Homo sapiens: one gene and its partners. The protein of the gene in region 1 interacts with the protein of each later gene in a pairwise test. Each region holds a gene or a part of one and is shown in the gene's direction. Other genes may lie near its edges. The genes, in order: PCDHB12, CCDC172 and USH1C.

Evidence for each region.
Region 2: the proteins of PCDHB12 (region 1) and CCDC172 interact in binary tests that used the Homo sapiens proteins (3 or more experiments, as listed by UniProt).
Region 3: the proteins of PCDHB12 (region 1) and USH1C interact in binary tests that used the Homo sapiens proteins (3 or more experiments, as listed by UniProt).

The regions. Positions count from the first base shown.
Region 1 is NC_000005.10:141,206,973-141,210,725, forward strand, and holds the start of PCDHB12 (protocadherin beta-12 precursor), read left to right. Parts: upstream 1-1,746; 5' UTR 1,747-1,935; coding exon 1,936-3,753. UniProt on the Homo sapiens protein: Potential calcium-dependent cell-adhesion protein. May be involved in the establishment and maintenance of specific neuronal connections in the brain.
Region 2 is NC_000010.11:116,327,299-116,331,051, forward strand, and holds part of CCDC172 (coiled-coil domain-containing protein 172), read left to right. Parts: intron 1-3,753.
Region 3 is NC_000011.10:17,542,856-17,546,608, reverse strand, and holds the start of USH1C (harmonin), read left to right. Parts: upstream 1-2,192; 5' UTR 2,193-2,301; coding exon 2,302-2,337; intron 2,338-3,753. UniProt on the Homo sapiens protein: Anchoring/scaffolding protein that is a part of the functional network formed by USH1C, USH1G, CDH23 and MYO7A that mediates mechanotransduction in cochlear hair cells. Required for normal development and maintenance of cochlear hair cell bundles.

The DNA.
Region 1 (3,753 bases):
TCAGTTTGACACCTCACACTTGTGCTCAGCTGTGCCTAGATCCCCAAGACTAGAGAAAGTCCCATTAAATTTCTCCAGAGAATAAACTTTCTATTTTCTGGCTGTGAGTTATGTTTCCATCTATGTAGGGTGATGAGAAGAACAGAGAATTCAATTATCCTCTACACATACTTCCAACTAATAACTTTTTTCCATCCTTAACTGACTTCAGTCTTCTTAAACATCTGGTTCCTCCAGATCTTGCGCTTAAAAGAGATTATGTTTCTTGTGAGTATCTTCAATGCAGGAACTTTACTTTAGGGGCACTTTTTGGAACTGCTAAGTTAATTGCTCTTCCACCTGCTTTCTGTCATAGAAAAATGTATGTGTTCACTTGTGTATTCTTAATCTTTGTTAGTTCCTACCATTTTAATTACTTTTCTGCCATTTTAGTGCATATTTTTTTTTAAAAAGAGAGGTTAATTGTGTGTGCTCAATTCATCTACTTTTCAAGTTTTACCCTTCTGTACCAATTACTATTTCAACCATGTATCCAGCTTACATTTTTAAGAATATTAATTGAATTTAACATTTTAAAATGCAGACTTGTTGGATTCTTCTCCCATCCATTCTTAGTGCACTTTAAGACTTTCTATAGTGAATATCACTGATGAGCCCTTAGCATCTGTTGCAAACAGTCTCCCTCATTTTGTACCAATGAGGTACTTTGGCTAGGACTGAAACCTTCCCAAGCTTAAGAGGTGGTCCCAGACAGGATTAAAACACAGTAATGGCCAGAGACAGGTCTTTAGATTCTAGGACTAAAATCTCCAACTATAATTCTATACCTCTTGAAACAATGATTGCTTCAGTGGCAGACACATGATCTTACTTGGTCTAATTAGAGTGAAAGTTAGGTTTTTGTTCTATGTTTAGGGATAGACTCTTACTTTCTCTTCCTGGGCTGAAAGAGAAAACAGATAGCTACAGTTGTGGCTACAATAAATTTTGGGAACCTAAGGCAAGTCAGCTTTAGGAATAAGAGTCTGCTTTAAATTAAACTAACTTGCTCATGCTTGTGTACTTATGAATTTTTTTGTAAATTATGAAAAACTGGAACTAAATGATGGGTTTACATAACATGTTCCACCCCAATCTCTTGCTTCATTTTCTGCCTGTTCACAATTCATTGCTATTAAGGAAATCTACAGAAGTGCCTTTTTATGCTGTTGTGTTGACCTATATATGCCTCATCTCATGGTTAATCCAGTTTCATAACTTCAGAAAGGATTTCTGAGATGACCTTTCCTTTACCTTATCACGTAAGGAAAGCCAAGTAGTAATAGAATTTCATTCAGCTTAACAATCACTTATACCCTGCTTGTTTCAGGCTTACAATTGTCTCAGAAACACTATGAATTCCTGGGAGCCAGGGATCACATCTTGTATCTGTGTTTACCACAACTGAACACATTTGGTTGTGAGAAGAGTGGGGAAAGACACTGAATAAATGCTTTAAAACAAAATCATCATCACAAACTATAAAGAATATAAAACGATTATTATGGAAGATAAAATATATTTTTAATTACTTCAACAGAAGGAATTATTTAAACGCAATATTTATTTGCTTCTGGAGGACATTTATGTAAATAAAATTTAGGTAGTGTTCATCAAACTGTGAAAATCTGTGGAGACGCGTGGTGGCGCTGCAGGATAATATCAAGAAAAAAATTACCCTGGAGGATGTTGTAGACCCTGTTATCCAGTACACGCGGAGAACTGGGAAGACAGAAAGAACAATCCTTTAAGGGAGAACCTAGAAGCCATTCAACAAGGTTAAAATCTTCAGGCTTCCGAGGATTTGGTAGACAGATCAGAGGCACGTTTCCCACAACTGCGAAGAGGCGCTGAGGCAATTCTGCAAGAAGATTTTGGGGTTTTGGAAAAGAAGCTATGGAAAACGGAGGGGCAGGCACTCTGCAGATAAGGCAAGTCCTGCTTTTCTTTGTTTTGCTGGGAATGTCTCAGGCGGGCTCTGAAACTGGGAACTTTTTGGTGATGGAGGAATTGCAGAGCGGGAGCTTTGTAGGAAATTTGGCAAAGACCCTGGGACTCGAGGTGAGTGAGCTGTCTTCGCGGGGGGCTCGGGTGGTTTCTAATGATAACAAAGAGTGTTTGCAGCTGGACACAAACACTGGGGATTTGCTCCTGAGAGAAATGCTAGACAGGGAGGAGCTCTGTGGCTCCAATGAGCCTTGTGTGCTGTATTTCCAAGTGTTAATGAAAAACCCCACGCAGTTTTTACAAATTGAGCTCCAGGTCAGGGATATAAATGATCACTCTCCCGTCTTCTTGGAAAAAGAAATGCTCTTAGAAATCCCAGAGAACAGTCCTGTTGGTGCTGTGTTCTTGCTTGAAAGTGCAAAGGATTTAGATGTAGGAATCAATGCTGTAAAAAGCTACACAATAAATCCGAACTCTCATTTCCACGTTAAAATAAGAGTCAATCCAGACAATAGGAAATACCCTGAGTTAGTTCTGGACAAGGCGCTGGATTATGAAGAGCGCCCGGAGCTCAGTTTCATCCTCACTGCTCTGGATGGCGGGTCCCCTCCCAGGTCTGGAACTGCCTTGGTCAGGGTGGTGGTTGTAGATATTAATGACAACTCCCCTGAGTTTGAGCAGGCTTTTTATGAGGTGAAGATTCTGGAGAATAGCATCCTTGGCTCCCTGGTTGTGACCGTCTCAGCCTGGGATTTAGACTCTGGAACAAACAGTGAACTATCCTATACCTTTTCCCATGCCTCAGAAGATATTCGCAAGACATTTGAAATTAATCAAAAGTCTGGTGACATTACTTTAACAGCACCTTTGGATTTTGAAGCAATTGAGTCATACTCAATAATCATTCAAGCCACAGATGGGGGAGGACTTTTTGGAAAATCTACAGTCAGAATTCAGGTGATGGATGTAAACGACAACGCTCCTGAAATCACTGTGTCATCAATTACCAGTCCAATCCCAGAAAACACTCCAGAGACTGTGGTTATGGTTTTCAGGATACGAGACAGAGACTCTGGGGACAACGGAAAGATGGTTTGTTCTATCCCGGAGGACATCCCATTCGTGCTAAAATCTTCGGTAAATAATTACTACACTTTGGAAACAGAGAGACCGCTGGACAGAGAGAGCAGAGCCGAGTACAACATCACCATCACCGTCACCGACTTGGGGACCCCCAGGCTAAAAACCGAGCACAACATAACCGTGCTGGTCTCCGACGTCAATGACAACGCCCCCGCCTTCACCCAAACTTCCTACGCCCTGTTCGTCCGCGAGAACAACAGCCCCGCCCTGCACATCGGCAGCATCAGCGCCACAGACAGAGACTCGGGCACCAACGCCCAGGTCAACTACTCGCTGCTGCCGTCCCAGGACCCGCACCTGCCCCTCGCCTCCCTGGTCTCCATCAACGCGGACAACGGCCACCTGTTTGCCCTCAGGTCGCTGGACTACGAGGCCCTGCAGGGGTTCCAGTTCCGCGTGGGCGCCACAGACCACGGCTCCCCGGCTTTGAGCAGCGAGGCGCTGGTGCGCGTGCTGGTGCTGGACGCCAACGACAACTCGCCCTTCGTGCTGTACCCGCTGCAGAACGGCTCCGCGCCCTGCACCGAGCTGGTGCCCTGGGCGGCCGAGCCGGGCTACCTGGTGACCAAGGTGGTGGCGGTGGACGGTGACTCGGGCCAGAACGCCTGGCTGTCGTACCAGCTG
Region 2 (3,753 bases), on another chromosome or scaffold:
CGTCATGACATTCATGTATAATAATATAACTGAAGTTTTGTATCTTGTTTAGGTTAATATTTTTAAAAGGTTGCTTATACAAGTTTTTGTACAAAATGCATTTTTCCTGGATTGGTGAGGATATTGACCTGATATAATATATTTTTTAATGTTACTCTGTAATATTTTCTTTGTTAGCAAAGTTTTGTTTTGTCTGCAAATGGAAATGTAATTTGTTGATATATACACATACATTAAAAAATGTTGATTCAGTTGTTTTTACTAGAAAGAAGACAGAAAAGGCCTACCATTGTTTAGAAACATTTGTTGAAATTACTAATTAATATAGGTTCATAAGCATGCATTGCTTTTTAACCAGCTCATATATGTGGGTAATAATACATTTGTATCTTACTAATAAAATTAACATATGAGGGTCACAGTTCATACAATACTAATTTATAACTGAAATAGTTTGATTTGTATTATAGTCAAGATGGTATGTATATGTGCATAAAGATTTTAAAAGTGGAATCACAATTATAATGCATATGACTAATGGGAAGAACTGAAGAACTAATCCTAAATTGATTTCTTGTTTCTTTTATTCTGAGTTAATTATATGTCTGCCAATAACAATGAAAATATATTTACTTGAATATTTGACTTGGCATTTATTGACCCATTTATCAAACAGTAGCAGCACAAGGAGAAACTATTAATAGAACATAATTTGAATAGAGCAGTGCTTGAGCTATTGTACAGTCATACATTCAGAAAATTTGGGGGGCATTTATTTTGGATGTTGTTTCTGGTCAATAAATGTATTTGGGAAGTACAGTATTCATTTTTTTTCTTTTATGTAAAACCCGGATAGCATGTAATTAGAACTTGAATGATAGCATTTGCCTTGCAGGGCTCAATGAGTCTTTTAAAATATATGGTTGCAAAAGTCTCAGGTTATATAGTATGAGTACTTTATGAATTGGACAGCTACACTATGCCTGGTTAGGTTTGGTAATATGAAAACAGAAAAATGAGAACATGCCCTGGATTTGCATTCATGCTTACCAATACATCCAAAACTTCTGATAGTTAAGGAAAAGTTGTATAGTATTGATGACAGGGCAAACCAAAATTAAGGACTGACAGAACATTGGTAGTTTCTTTTAAACATCTAAAAGAGCTTCTTCTATTTTTAAAAATGGCATATAATTAAAATTTTGACATTTAATTTTTATAAACATATTACATAAAACTCAATATAATGCCATATTCCCTTAAGAGGGAGTAAATGGAGGAAAATCTGAGGCTATTTTGTGAATATTTTGTTTATTTTTTCTGTTTCCAATTTTAACTTGTGTAAACACCATAACAATAATAAAAGAATATTTCATGAATTTTTAAAGGAAAATTGTATTGAAATTAAAAAGTAACTTAAGGTGGCCCCATTTACTTCTTTACCTCAATATGTATGTGTTCTTTTATTTTAATTGGTAAAAGTTAGGAAACCTCCAGAACAGCAGGCAAAGTCATATCCTTTAGTACTGTATTACCTAATTGGAGAAAGAACAAAATCACAAATTATTATCATTTATAGTATTGAAATGGAGTTTTGTAATTGGAGTGCTTTTTTCTTTCTTTACACTTAATCAAAAAAATTTAGATCCTACCAATATTTAATTTTATAGTTGGCAATTATTCATTCAACAAACATTCATTGAGCAACTGCTAAATCACACTATGAATACTTGGCAAATAAATTATATAACACCTTCCTTCCTGAATTACAGGATTGACATCAAGCAATTTCAACTATATAAACCTAACTGTAAACTCAAAATTTTTGAAGTTCTCATTTAAAGAAAAAATTTGTTTCCATTTTCTCTATGAAATTCTATAAAGAAAGCCTTATCATGTTTGTCATGAGTAATTATCCAAAACTTGGAAATAGGCAAAAAAGGTCACTGAGTGTCCTTTGAGTATTGTATTAGACATTGTCCAGTAGCTCACCTTCCTGAGGACAGTCAGGTTTATGGGGGTGTGAACCTTTGTAATGGGCTGTTTTTTCTTGGATATGCCAATCATTCTTTGACCCCAGGGCCTTTGCACTTGCTGTTTCCTCTGCTTGAAATGCTGATTCCATTAGCTGTTATTCTGTCATGCACGCTCACTTCATTTAGATCTCTCCCAGTAGAATCATGTGGGACTTTTAGTGCTAACACTAGGACAGCCCCATGCAAATCTTGATGGTTGGTTAGCCTAAGTCTCTGCTCAGTTGTCACCTTAGAGCATTATTCTTAAAGTGTGATCTCTGAGTTCAAAGGGGTCCCCAAGACACTTTCAGGGAGTTTGTAAGGTCAAGCTATTTTTATGATAATACTATACAAAGGTACCATTTGCCATCTTCTCTATGTTAATGCACACATTGACAGTGCAAAAGCAGCAGTGAGTAAAACTCTTAGCACCTTAACACAAATCGAGGTGGTGGCACCAAACTGTACTAGTAGTCATCTCGTATTCTTCACTGCCATGCACTCTCAGTAAGAAAACAAAAACCGCTAGTTTTACTTAATGTTTTGATTGAAGTGTCAAAAATATTAATTTTATTGGAACTGATCATTGAGTATATTCATTTTCAATATTGTGTACGATCACATGGGTGGTACATCTAAAGTACTTTTATATTCCGAAGTGCCACGATTGTCTCAAGAGAGAGCATGTGTGCAGTTGTTTGAGATGCAGTATGAGCTAGCTATTCTTTTTCTGAAACGCCATTTTTACTTAGATAATTGACAGTCAAGTTGTAGTTATTTAGATTTGGGTGTTTGGCAAAATTTTCTGAAAAATAAATGAAGTAAGCCTAAAATGTCAAGGCAAACATCTGACATTCTTCTTATTATTTTGCCAATGATAATATGCAAGCTTTCAAACAAAAATTAGAATTTTGGAGGATTCCTATCTATCTTGGCAGCTTGGCAGCTTCCTGGTACTTAAAGATTTTTCTGGTGAGTTCGTTAGTGATATTAATGAATATGAATGTTACTTTTGAAGCAGTATGTTTCAAGATGTTTCAGAATGTTACTTTTCAAAGCATATTATGAAATATATCAACATTTGGAGGATCTGCATAATTCAGGGAAGCAGTAAGTAATGCATAAAGTTACAAAACTGTGCATAGATAAAAGGTAGACTCAAAGTGCAATGTAGACCAATGGATTTTATTATAACATAGAATGAAAAGTTCATTGAAACGGCTTCAGATTCCACATTGCAACTAACCTTTAAGGAGCTACCACATGGTGAATTTTGATATAGTATCAAAGAAGAATATGCACAATCATTTCCAACTACATATCTGTGCACTCCGTATTCTCCAACTGAAAAACGTATTACAAAAGATTGAGTAGAAGCAGATATGAGAGTCCAGCTATCTTCTTTTTTAATTTTTTGTTTTTATTTATTTATTTTTAAGAGACAGAGTCTCACTCTGTTACCCAGATTGGAGCTCAGTGGCACAACAACAGTTCACTGCAACCTCAAACTCCTGGCCTCAAGTGATCCTTCTGCTTCAGCTTCCTGAGTAGCTGGGACTACAGGCCTCTGCCACCCTACCTGGCTAATTTAAAAAATATATTGTTTTCTAGAGACAGGGTCTTGCTATTTTGCCCAGGCTAGTTTTGAACTCCTGGCCTCAGGTGATCCTCCCACTTTGGTCTCTCAAAGTTCTGAAATTACAGGCGTGAACCACCAAACCTGGTCTCAGCTGTCTTC
Region 3 (3,753 bases), on another chromosome or scaffold:
ACATGGGACTGAGCACCTGGGGAATCTGTACATCATTCACTTCGTCATCACTTAGGGAACACCAACTAGATGCTAGGTCTTACAGAGGATGATGATGATGGTGGTGGTGGTGGTCGTGGTGGTATTGGCCCCAGTAGACTTCTAGGCAAGGGTATAGATTTGAGATGCATTCATTCATTCATTCATTCATTCATTCACTCAACAAATTTGTTTGGCATTGATTCCATGCCATGCACTGTTCTAGGCATATAGTGGTAAATAAAGCAAACACAGCTATCTTCACACAGGAGGAAGCTGGGGGCACAGATAGGAAGATGAAGAGGAAAGAGCTAAGGATGGAGCCTTAAGGAATGCTGGTTAAGGAACAGGCAAAGACTGATTGTCTCCAAGGAAGCTTGAAACAAAAATTCATGAGAGAGGAGAACCAGGTCTCAATGCTATTCTCAAAACAAAGCAGGGGGCATTTTAAGGTGGAGGGAGTCTGTGGGGGTAATGGCCAATGTAAAATAAGGATTGGTGTGGCAGGTGAACAGCATTCCCCTGGATAAGGACATTCATTCACCTCTGCCAGGATTCTAAATACAAAATAAACAGCCATATGACATTCTTTTCCAATGTAGAGAATCAATGAAGTAAGTCGGAGGGGAATGCATTTTGTGTGGCCTTTTCTGGACCATTCAAAAATCCCACAAGTCTTTCCATTTTATCGCTGACTTAATAGTTAATGCTAAGGTGAGAAAACAGATCATATTTTAAGGTTCTTCTCCAAGAGGGATTTACATCTTAAACTAGGCAACAAAAATAGTGTGCTTGTAAAACTTCAGCTATTGGGGAGAGGGACGCAGAGGGGTGTTTAGGTGCCCCAGAGTTACAATTGTAAGTGGTTACCTGATGTAAGCTGCTGTCCATCTCCTTGCCCCTGCCCTTGACAGGGCACAAAGGGCTCAGGTGCCTCCCTGGGTTAAGTTCAGGCACAAGCCCCATACTTAGCCTCTGATTTACACATTTTTATCACCCCTCTCCTAGCCCCTCTTTCCTTTCATCTCTTTCCAGGCCTGGTTCATCATTGTCTTTGATGAATCTTTCCTTTCATTCCTTTCCAGGCCTGGTTCATCATTGTCTTTGCACCAAGCACTAGACCTAGGAGTTAAGCAAATGCTGACCAAATTGAATTAAATGAACCAGAGGGTCTGGGCCCTGGGTGAAGGTCAGCCATAGATCAAAATGTCACTGCCAGGCTCTGCCAGGCTTCGATGGATATGTGAGTGTGTTGGGTTTGGGTTTTGTTTTGTCTTGTTTTGTTGGGGGTGGAGGTGTTAGGGAAGGTGGGAGGGGAAATCAGTTGAGGGGGGCACTCTCACACACACTGATTCAGACCCCTGCGGCCCACAGTAAAACCCAGCCCTGTCCCCAAGGAATTCACAGAACAAGGATTGATTTCTCCCTGGTGGAAAAGTGCAGGAGGAAGCCAGGACTGAAGGTACGCTGGAGGTGAGGGCGTAGCAAGGGCTGACAGTCCAGGAGGGCCATGAACCTCGACAAGAGTATCCAGAGAAGGCCGGGCGCGGTGGCCCGCGCCTGTAATCCCAGCACTTTGGGAGGCCGAGGTGGGCAGATCACGAGGTCAGGAGATCGAGACCTTCCTGGCGAACACGGTGAAACCCCGTCTCTACTAAAAATACAAAAAAAAAAAATTAGCCGGGCGTGGTGGCGGGCGCCTGTAGTCCCAGCTACTCGGGAGGCTGAGGCAGGAGAATGGCGTGAACCCGGGAGGCGGAGCTTGCAGTGAGCCAAGATCATGCCACTGCACTGTAGCCTGGGCGACAGAGCGAGACTCCGTCTCGGGGGGGAAAAAAAAAGAATATCCAGAGAAAACGGACTAGATTGCCCCGCCCCCCGCCCGTGTAAATAGTTTCCGTATCTCTCTATTCCGGTCCCCACAAAAAAGTCCCAAACCTCCTCCCTACGTCTCCACGATCTTCTTCCTCAAACGCATGTGTTCAGGTACCACTTCCAGAGAAATACCAGCTTGAAGCCCAGCTACTGCCACCTCAGGCCCATAGGCACACTGGGGCCCATTTGCTCCCAGGCTTCAGTGGGAGGCGACGACTCAGCACCTTCGACTCCAGCCTCGCAGCGGCCCCGCCCCACAGAGGCCTGGCCCCGCCCCTCCGCGCTCAGGCCCCGCCCCCAGCTCCGAGGGCGGCTGGCCCGGTCGCGGTCGCGGCTCTTTCCAGCTCCTGGCAGCCGGGCACCCGAAGGAACGGGTCGTGCAACGACGCAGCTGGACCTGGCCCAGCCATGGACCGAAAAGTGGCCCGAGAATTCCGGCATAAGGTCAGAGCTGCAGGGCGCCCCAGGCTTCTGGGACTCCGGAGTCCTGGGCGCGGTGGGTAGGGGGTGGACACCCCGGCACTGCCCCTCCCTTTTCCGGCCCCACCTGATGGCTCTGGTTGGGCTGGGACACCCGAGGGTCGTCTGGCTGGCAGCAGGGATCCCCAGTAAAGTGAGGGAGGGAATGCGGGGACTCCCGGCTCAAGGACTGCTAAACGAGTCGATCTTCTGCCAGCCTTTCTCCCTCTGCCTTCCAGGGGCAGGGACGTCTCTGGGGTTTGAATTCCTTCCAGTCTTGGCCGCTTTTCTGAGGTGCCCCCTTTGTGGGCAAGCCCCTCTCCTTCCTAGTGCCCCCAGCTCAGGGCTGTTGAGGCATGTGGAGACAGTCTGGGGCAGTATCTGAGAGGTGAGGGTTGGGAGAAGGGAAACTAGACGTCTCTCTCTCTGCCTTTTGACCTCAGAACATGAGTTAGAAGCATTTCAGCCCTGCCTGCCTAAGGGCGTTTCTTAGGGTCTGAGAAGTAGCTGAGGAGCTGGTGCTGACCCGGGTGCGGTGGGGAGGAAGGGAGGAGGTACTGAGGGCGTCGGAGCTGGGCTCTGGCCGGCCAGATCCTTCAGGCAGAGCCGGGTCCACCCTGGTGTGTCCCAGTGAGGGGCCTCACTGGTGGTCTGGGATTCTCAAGGACCATCTCTGGAAGTGGCCAGGTTTCACACAGGGCATTTCGAGAATGATTCACAAAGCTGTGCAGAATCTGCTGAGGCCCTGAGACCAGAGAGGGCCATCAAAGAGATCCAGCCTACTTCCCCACCAAGTCTTAGGATGCCTCTGAGTCTGGGGATGAAGCCGCTTGGGGGGGGTGGGTGGTATCTGGAGCTCCCCACAGGCCCTGCCTGAGGGGCAGGTAACTATTGATAACTTAACTATTGATAACTGTGTGACCCAAGGCTCTCCCAAAGACCCCAGGGGCAGTGTCTTTAGACCAAGCCAAACCTCTTCCTGGTTTGAGAGCTGAGCTCAGGTAGGGCAGGTCAGGGTGCTTAACTCCTTCCTTCCCATAAAGAGGCCCATAGGAGCCCAAGGAGCTAGCCAGTGTAGGGGCCACAGGGGCTTGGGGCCAAGGGCCCGGGGTCAGTTATTCATTTAATAAGCATGTTTTGAGCATCCTCTCAGCCATACCCAGTCTGTGCCCTTTGCTGGTGGTGTAGGTGGGAGGCAGACCCTACCCTGGTAATTACCCATGTCTGAGTGCTGCGTGTTGAGGCCAAGCTTTTGTAGGGGCACAAAGGGACAGCTCAAACTGGCAGAAGGCTCCTGAAAACAAGGTCTTGGGCATTTCTGGTCCTGCTCCCAGGGGTGGGTGATAGCTGGAAGTTCAGCAGGAATTTAGGGGCTGGCGAATACCAAGGGGAGCTTGAGAG